Linked DNA regions of Homo sapiens: regions 1 and 2 are each linked to region 3. The links come from fine-mapping of genetic effects on gene expression. A gene starts in region 3. Each other region holds a variant in brackets. All regions are shown on one strand. Distances are from middle to middle.

What was found. PIP is the estimated chance that this variant, and not a neighbour inherited with it, causes the effect.
Region 1: its variant is fine-mapped to the expression of SLC22A15 in neutrophils (Naranbhai 2015, PIP 0.95).
Region 2: its variant is fine-mapped to the expression of SLC22A15 in lung (TOPMed, PIP 0.91).

Annotation. Positions count from the first base shown.
Region 1 is chr1:116,107,923-116,110,687 of GRCh38, forward strand. No RefSeq gene overlaps it. Among named protein-coding and RNA genes, the nearest start is that of MAB21L3, 2.1 kb to the right of the region's middle. The variant T/A (reference allele first, on the strand shown) is at 1,441.
Region 2 is chr1:115,809,869-115,812,633 of GRCh38, forward strand. No RefSeq gene overlaps it. Among named protein-coding and RNA genes, the nearest start is that of NHLH2, 30 kb to the right of the region's middle. The variant A/G (reference allele first, on the strand shown) is at 1,416.
Region 3 is chr1:115,975,303-115,978,067 of GRCh38, forward strand. SLC22A15 (solute carrier family 22 member 15) reads left to right here and starts at 1,211. Exons shown (of 12, transcript NM_018420.3): 1 at 1,211-1,412. The coding sequence starts at 1,326. LOC101928977 (a long non-coding RNA gene) reads right to left here and starts at 1,974. Exons shown (of 5, transcript NR_125970.1): 1 at 1,795-1,974. RefSeq lists silencers at 1,058-1,287, 1,348-1,597.

The DNA.
Region 1 (2,765 bases), 130 kb after region 3:
GCACTTTCTGAGTTGAAATCAGCCTTTCCAAGGAAAATTTCCTTATTCCTTTTCTACTTTTGTTGTGTTCCTAAATGAACTAATGGGAGCTTACTCATTATTTAACTTTACTTTTCTCACTTTATCTTATGCCTGCAGATGGGAGATAGAATGGGATTACATTGTAGAATAAGAAAAGGGGCCACCGTCATTTAGTCATTAATTCATGCATGCATTCATTCATTTATTAAGCAGCTACTATATGTCAAATACTGTTTCCAACAAGGTAAATCTTTTCCTTTAAGGAGCTTTTGGTACCACAGGAGCTAGATACAAGCAAAGTAACAAAATGCAGTATGATAAGAGCTAAAGTAGGAGTTTAGCACTGGGTGGCCTAGAAGCATCGTGTAGAGTCCCCCACCCAGTCTTGAGAATCAGAGAAGGCCCTGGAGCAGGTAGCAGCTAAGACAAATCTTGGAGAACAAATAGAAGCCCAGTGAAGGGGTGGAAGGTAAGGGGAGAGTCCAAGCAGTGAGCATTGTCGGTGCAAGGGTCCAGAGAAGATGGTGAGGGAGGGGGTCTTGCAGGGAACTGTAACTATTTTAGTATTGCAGGAGTGCAGAGTGCAGGGGTGAATCTTGTGTGTAGTACAGTGTTGCTTAAAAAAGATAAATTAAATAAACAAATAACCCAAACAAGTTAGAATATCCCAGATAGGATATATACTCTTGCATCCACCGCAGACCCCTATCGCTTTCCATTGTTCTACTCTATCCTGATTTATTTTATTAACCACCTGGCCTATGTAGGCATTTGTGTTTGGGATTCCCTACCTCTGAACCCAGACCAAAGATCAAATTCAAACTATCTCAGTTACCATGTCAGGTGTGAAAGGAAAGAAGACCAGCTTTTTGATGGAACTGTGAAGACCAACCCAGTGAACAATCCTACCCACCAGGTAAGACCAGGAGAATTACTCACATACATTAAAAGAAGGATCTTTCATATGGAACCAACCTAATTGTCCATCGATCAATGAGTGGATGAAGAAAATGTGGTACATATACACCATGGAATACTACTCAGCCATAAAAATAATAAAATTATGTCTTTTGCAGCAATTTAGATGGAGCTGGAGGCCACTATTTTAAGTGAAGTTACTCAGGAATGGAAAAACCAAATACCTTATCTTCTCACTTATAGCTGGGAGCTAAGCTATGGGTATGCAAAGGCATACAAAGTGGTATAATGGACTTTGGAGACTCAGAAGGGGGACGTGGGAGGGGACTAAGGAATAAAAAACTACATATTGGGTACAATGTACACTATGTGGGTGATGAATGCACCAAAATCTCAGACTTTAGTACTATACAATTCATCCACATAACCAGAAACCACTTGTACGTAAAAAGCTATTGAAATAAAAATTTAAAAACAAAAAACCAAACAAGCCTTAAAAAA[T/A]AGATCTTTTTCCTCAGGGAGTGAAATGGAGTATAAACACAAATATTTATTGAGGTCTTATCATGTGCCAAGTACTATGCTAAATTTTTTTTTATATCAGGCCTTTCTATAAAAGAAGATAGCAATTTAAGCAGTCACAGATGCATGTATATAATTAAATTTATAATTTGTAAGGTGATTTTACACATCTTAAAATATATTTTATTTACTAGAATGTCACTTTATAATGTGACATTCTAATAAATAATGTCATTTTGCATAATGTTTAATGCAAACAAATAAGCATTCAGTAATGTTTATTGAGGGCCAGTTGTGCGTTAGGTACTGAGGCTTCTCTGGAGATACAGAACAGACTGGCCCCTGCCTCGGGTTGTTCACTACTGTGGACTTCAGCACATCACAGACGATTATCTCTGCCTGGTATTCTGCATTGTCAGATTCAGTCTGAGTCATCTTGGGATTACAGGAAATCTTTTAAAAAGTCAGAGTTTGTTCCTGGCTAATATGGTGAAATCCCGTCTCTACTGAAAATACAAAAAAATTGGCAAGGCGTGGTGGCGGGCGCCTGTAGTCCTAGCTACTGGCGAGGCTGAGGCAGGAGAATGGCATGAACCTGGGAGGCGGAGCTTGCAGTGAGCCGAGATTGCGCCACTGCACTCCAGCCTGGGCGACAGAGCGAGACTCCGTCTCAAAAAAAAAAAAAAAGTCAGAGTTTGTAATCCTGCAAACTTTAACAAATTTGTATATTTAAGGTTGATTTTGATCAAGCTAACCTTCCTCCTTCTTGGAATTAAAATCTCAGACACTAAGTAAATCAGTAACAAACACTTCTGCTGGTAAACCAGGGCTAGCATTATCTCCCCGGGACTTCTCAGATTGGCAGCGTAGGGTTTTGCATGCCTTGTTAACCTGACTTGTAATAAGTTCTTAGTCTTCACAATGGAAACTGAGCCAAAGCAGGTTTACATTTCCGTACTTGCATTTGGTGTGAGTCATGAGAAAGGAGAATATTTATTTTCTGAGGAAGGAAGAGAACCTGAGCTAACTTTGAATTTCCTCAGTGGCCTAGCATACAAGTGCCTTAGGCTTACTGTAATTCAATCCTTTTGCGAATCCTATATCCAATTACCCAGATATCTACATCTAAAAAAAGCTTGTCTTCATCAAACTGTCAGACAGGAGCTGTCAGAGAGTCTATTTGTGGGACTGCCCTGTATTTCAGAGCATTTGCCCATAAGGAGCTAAATCATGGAGTAGGGAATTGGGTTGTGCCCCCACAACACACCTATTCCCTGGATATGACATCCTGGTAAAATCGGACTGTG
Region 2 (2,765 bases), 170 kb before region 3:
TGTATTCTGCATAGAACACTGCCTCTACGAGGTCATAAACAATGAAGAAATTCCTGTCTTGCTTGCCACTAACCTAGGTGCAGAACTGAGGGCCCCAACAGTAGTGGAGAGTGGGAGATAATGAAGGGAAAACCAAGCCAGGAAGTGGCAGGGCCAGGGGAAGGGAGTATGCTGTTACATGTGCTGTTACACTTGGTTGTGGGGAGAACTCAGAGAGGCTTTCCAAATATATACAAGGATGTCATCATGTTTACTGGAATGTAAAATGTTCATAGTGCCTAGGCTTGTCATTAAAAACAAGAATGGGCTTGGACTACATAATGAGCAGAAATACCTATTAATCTAAGTCCTCGTCTGGAAAAAGTGTAGAGGAGGTGGGCACCACTTATTAAATGTATCTTATGTTTTATAAACCAGCTGACAAAGTGATAAAAGTAAGGTGTAAGATTGTGCACAAAAAGCTTGTATTTGCATAAAATCAAACCTCAGGTTTTCTGGCTATGGATTATACCCATTGCTGAGAAGTTTAATTTACCAGCTGTTTACAGCATGTTATTCAAATAACCTATAAGTTGCCGGCACAGCAATGTATTGCATTTCTAGGACATACTGTAGATTCTTGCAACTGTTGTTCAGTGTAAATTCTACTTTACAGTATCTGAAAATTGCCTACAGTTCTGTACCCAGTTTGGACATGACTATCTGGCAAAAGAAATAAGCTGGAGAGTTGAAGAAGGACAATTAGACTTTTTGGAAAAGCTGAAAATTAAAAGGTGAAGTGCTGTGTTGGACAAAAGCAAGACCACCAAGGCCACTTGGAGAAGAGCGGAGTGGCCTTGGACTCTGGATAAGCTGGGAAACATCCTCCCAGTGTTTTCTGCAAGTGTTCATTCCTGCCCATCTGTTCTGTGCAATACATAAGTGCCCCACTTATGTTGTTTGCACAGAACCTACTCTGTGGTGAAATGCCAGGTTCTGGCTGCATGCTTTCCCAACAGTCCCTTCTTCTGTCACTCCAGAGTTGGGTGTGTGTCAGGGGTCCCCAGGCGCTCAAGGTTTCATTGACAATTCATTAGAGAGATTCACAGGACTCAGAAAGCTGTTGTACTGATGGTTACAGGTTATTCCAGCAAAAGGATATAGATTAAAATTAGCAAAGGGAAAAGATACATGGGGCAAAGTCCAGGAGAAACCAGGTGCAAGCTTCCAGATGTTCCCTCCCAATAGAGCTGCACAGGATGTATTTAATCCTCTCAGCCTCAGTGTGTGATAACACATATAAAGTGTTGCCAACTAAGGAAGCTCACCCAAGCCTTGGTGTCTAGAGTTTTTATTGGGGATCTGTCATGTAGGCATGCTGTACCTGTGTGACTGGTTTCAGCTACTCAGACTCCAGCACTCCTAGACCAAAAGCA[A/G]GTGTTTGCCACAAGTCACATTGTTAGCACAATCTGATCCAACTGGTAACATGTGACCCAAGGCCTCAAGCAAACAAAATGTCCCTTATCAGGCAGAATATCCAGGGACTCAGAGCTTATCTCCCGGAAACTGGCCAAGGGCCATTGCGGAAATCAGGCCTTTCTTGGGAATGTATAGGGTTTGAGCAACTCAGATCTCCTGAGCTAACACTTTCCTTCCCAGCAAGAAGGGGTAGTTTGGAGGCAGAGGGACTTTTTCTGGCCAGTGGCCTCAGGACTGAAGCCTTTCTGCATAGAGACTCAGCTCCCCACAATAGCAGTGTTTTGGTAACCATGAGCATTTGGTCAGACCATCTGTGCTGGGCATAAGGGTTGATAGTGTCCACACTACCTATGCTACTGCTGAGAGTGGGAAACCTGCTGGGGGATTCCTTCAAGGATGAGTCATCCTCAAGGGGCCTCAACCCTTTGTCCCCACCGAGCATCACTCCTAAGTGCTACCCATTTCACCCTTAAACATTACTCAGACCTGCCCTTCCTCTGAGCCTCTGCCAGCATTACCTAGTCCAGATCAACGTCATCCTTCACTTGTACCATTGCAGCAGGCTCCTCCCCAGCCTCCTGGCCCACTGTCATCCCACTACAGTCAGAGTGAGCTTTAATGAAACTAAGTCTCCCCTTCAGTGGCTCCCCATGGCCTGTAGGATGAAATCCAAGCTCCATGACTCTGAATGGAACATTCTCTTGCCCCTACTCCAGCCTCTTGTCTCCTCTGCCTCTCAAGATTGCCTTTGACAATCCAAATTGCTTGTAGATCTCAGTATAGAGCTTGTTGTTTCTGTCTGTTGTTTCTTTGCACCAAGAGCCAATCATAATCCCAAAAGACACAATCTCAAATGTGATAATCCCACATGTTGAAATCCCCAAAAATCAAAATCACAAAATTACAATTCTGGGAAAAGTAATTTTAAAATTAGTTTAAAGATATTTTATTTGAGATACATATAAAAATGACAGAACACTCACAGGCCACTTTATACAATAAAATAGATAAAAGTAATACATTTTTGCAATCATAACTACTCAGGTATACTGACAGTCACATCGTGATGAGCAGACAACTGTATTCATAAAGAAATAGGTCAAAAAGTGAAATGTATATATAAATATCATTATGGTTGGTAATTGTGTACACCCAGTCTCATAACTGTAACCATCTGAAATACTGTGATAAACAACCTAAGTCTTTTGATGAAATAGATCAAAAAATGCAATGGGTCACCAACTCATCATATGCACTTTCTCAAAGAGCTGAGATCTCGAGAAATTGTTTTTTTTTTTTTTTTTTTT
Region 3 (2,765 bases):
GATTCAAGAAGAAAAACAATAGGATCATGTCAATAAATGCAAAAAGCACTTATTAAACTTCAGCATTTATTAATAATGAGGATTCGTAGGAAACAGCCAAAGAAGGAAACTTTTTAAACTATTAATAGTACTTATACAGAAAACGTTTCCTTAAGTAAGAGAGAGAAAAAAATCTTAAGAGTTTATAGAGTTTACAGTTTCCAACCCACTGATAAATTCAATTACAGTGAGCATTCATTTAATTGCTAAAAAAAGAAAGCAGCTGACCAGTAAAGCCTAGCTACCAATACGCTGCAACAGACATCACAATTAACGGAAAATTTTGGAAGCATAAGAAGGATACTGGCAGGTCAAGGACACTAGCTGGTCGCCATTTCTATTCAATGTTAAACTAGAAGTCATGGTCTAGACAATGGAATACTATGCAGCTGTTAAAAAGACAACACATAATAAACAAAAAGGCAAATGAGGTTAGGAGGTGGAGGCATGAGGGGACTAACGCAGGTGTCCAGCGTCCCTTGGCCCTGCCACGCTTTTTTTTTTTAATTTCCACCTGACAAACTGCCGTTTATCCTTTAAATACCTTGGCAGCCATCACATCCTGCCCCTTCGTCTTTTGCACTTCCTTTGTACCTCGTGCATACTTCTATAAGCAAATGTATCCGACGGTTTTACAAGAATTTGCTTGCCTACCAGTGTACTTAACCCATGGCTAGCACAGAATAGGACTGGAAAGAAATGCTGCACAGACAGCACTTTTCTCTGAAGGCTCTAGGGCTCCCCAAGCCCCCGCATTAAACTGGTTTGGGCAAAACGACAGGCATTGCTGAGAGCCGCCAGGCCGCCCGCCAGCTGCGGGTCCCCTGTAGGCAGAGCCCTGGGTCACACGCGGACGCGGTCCCGATGTTTCTTCTCAGGCCCTCAGCCCGGCCCACTTCCTCTTTCCTCACTTTAAGGCGCAGACAGCGGTCCCTCTCAAAACAAAACGTACACCAAAACACCATTTTTTTTTTAAACAGGAAGTCCAGAGGCCCGGGTCCAGGGCATCCAGCCCCGGATCTCGAACGCCCTCCTCGCCCCTCGCCCCGCGTAGCCCGGCTGCGCTCCCCGCTCCCCGCCCGGCGTCCACCTCTCGAGCCTGACAGCCCCGCCGCCCGCGCAGGCGCCCCGCCCCGGCCCGGCCCGCCCCGGCCCCGCCGCCAGCGCTTCCATCCCCGCCCCGGCGGGTCCAAGCCGGTGCCGGGCGCCCAGGGGTTGCCGCGCTGGGCGGGAGGGCAGCGCCTGAGAGGGCGGTGGGGTGGCGGGGTTCCTGCGCGCGGCCCGCCATGGAGGTGGAGGAGGCGTTCCAGGCGGTGGGGGAGATGGGCATCTACCAGATGTACTTGTGCTTCCTGCTGGCCGTGCTGCTGCAGGTAAGTCCCCGCGGCCCCGCAGCCGCATTTCCCTCTTCAGGGCCGCCCGGCGCAGGGCTAGGCGTCCGCTCCCAGACCGCCGGGGCCGGGGCCGAGGCCGAGGCTCTGCAAACACCGAGGTGTGGCGAGCGTCGGGGTGGGGCAGGGGCGAGGCGCCGCGCGGTGGCCTGGGCCCGGCCGGCAGCGTCAAGGTCGCCGGCCGGCCTCAGAGCCTCTTGGGTTCTGCTGGGCCCTCCACCCCGCCACCTTGAGTGGTGGAAGGAGCGTGTTGGGGGAGGTTTCTCAGCCGCTATGCTGGTTAAGGAGGGATGCAAAATTGTGTTACCTGCCCTACGCTGTTGCCTATAACACGCTGCAAATATGAAGGGAATTGTTACCCTACCTGTGGCACTGTCACCTTGGAATCTAGGACACAGTCTTGATAATCTGCAGACAAAAGGTTGTGTCTAGGATCGCCTCCCTCTGCGCCGGGTGTCCTCTGCCTCTTTTCCTGGGCTTGAGGGGGCTTACTCTTCTAGGGGCTTTCAAAGCATAGGATTTATTTCCCTCTGGTTTAAGTTCTGCTGGCTCATTCGGCCCTGCGCCAGCCTTGGGCTGAGACTCCCGTGAGCCGAATAGTGCCATCTACCATGTGTGGTTATCAAATGGAATCACTTCTTCATTATAAAGAATTCTCAGAACCTACTTGTACACCCCAGCCTCAAAATATCGATTCCATATGCGAAAGGTCACTACAGATTAACTGCGCCAGGCAAGGATTAGTCCTTCACCAACTTAAATGGCTCATTTGACATTAGTCGCTTCTCTCAATATGCCAGAGGCATTTCATTCACAAATCCTTTCTTAGTATTTGCTGTGAGCCAGCCATTTTACTCTTTCCTTCAGTCATCAGGTTTAATACGGGCTAGGATGTGCTGAACATAGGGATGCCATGGTGGACAAATCATTGACTGCCCTCAGGAGCTTGCATTCCAGTGGCTGCGGGTGGGGCAGGCAGACAGTTAAGTAATTTAGTTAGCATGTGATGATAGTTATTCTGCAGGAAGTACAGAGTGGTCATGGATATAGCCACCAGTCCACAAGTTGCTTAAAGCTTGCATAAGACAGTGGCTCAACAGGAAGATGGGGGAAGGTAGGGGTTGACTTATTGATTAAAATGTTTGGAAGTTCAGTTGATTTCATCATCAGCCAGAAACGGTTCAAATGATGGAGTCAGTTCTTTTTCTAGCCGAACAGTTCTCAGCTCACGAATATGTGGTATTCTGAAGTTCTTTTAAGCTCGTTGTTTTAGCTTTAAACAAGCTTTCCCCAGGGAGAAAAAACGTTCAAGCTAAATGATAAGAGTATTTAATA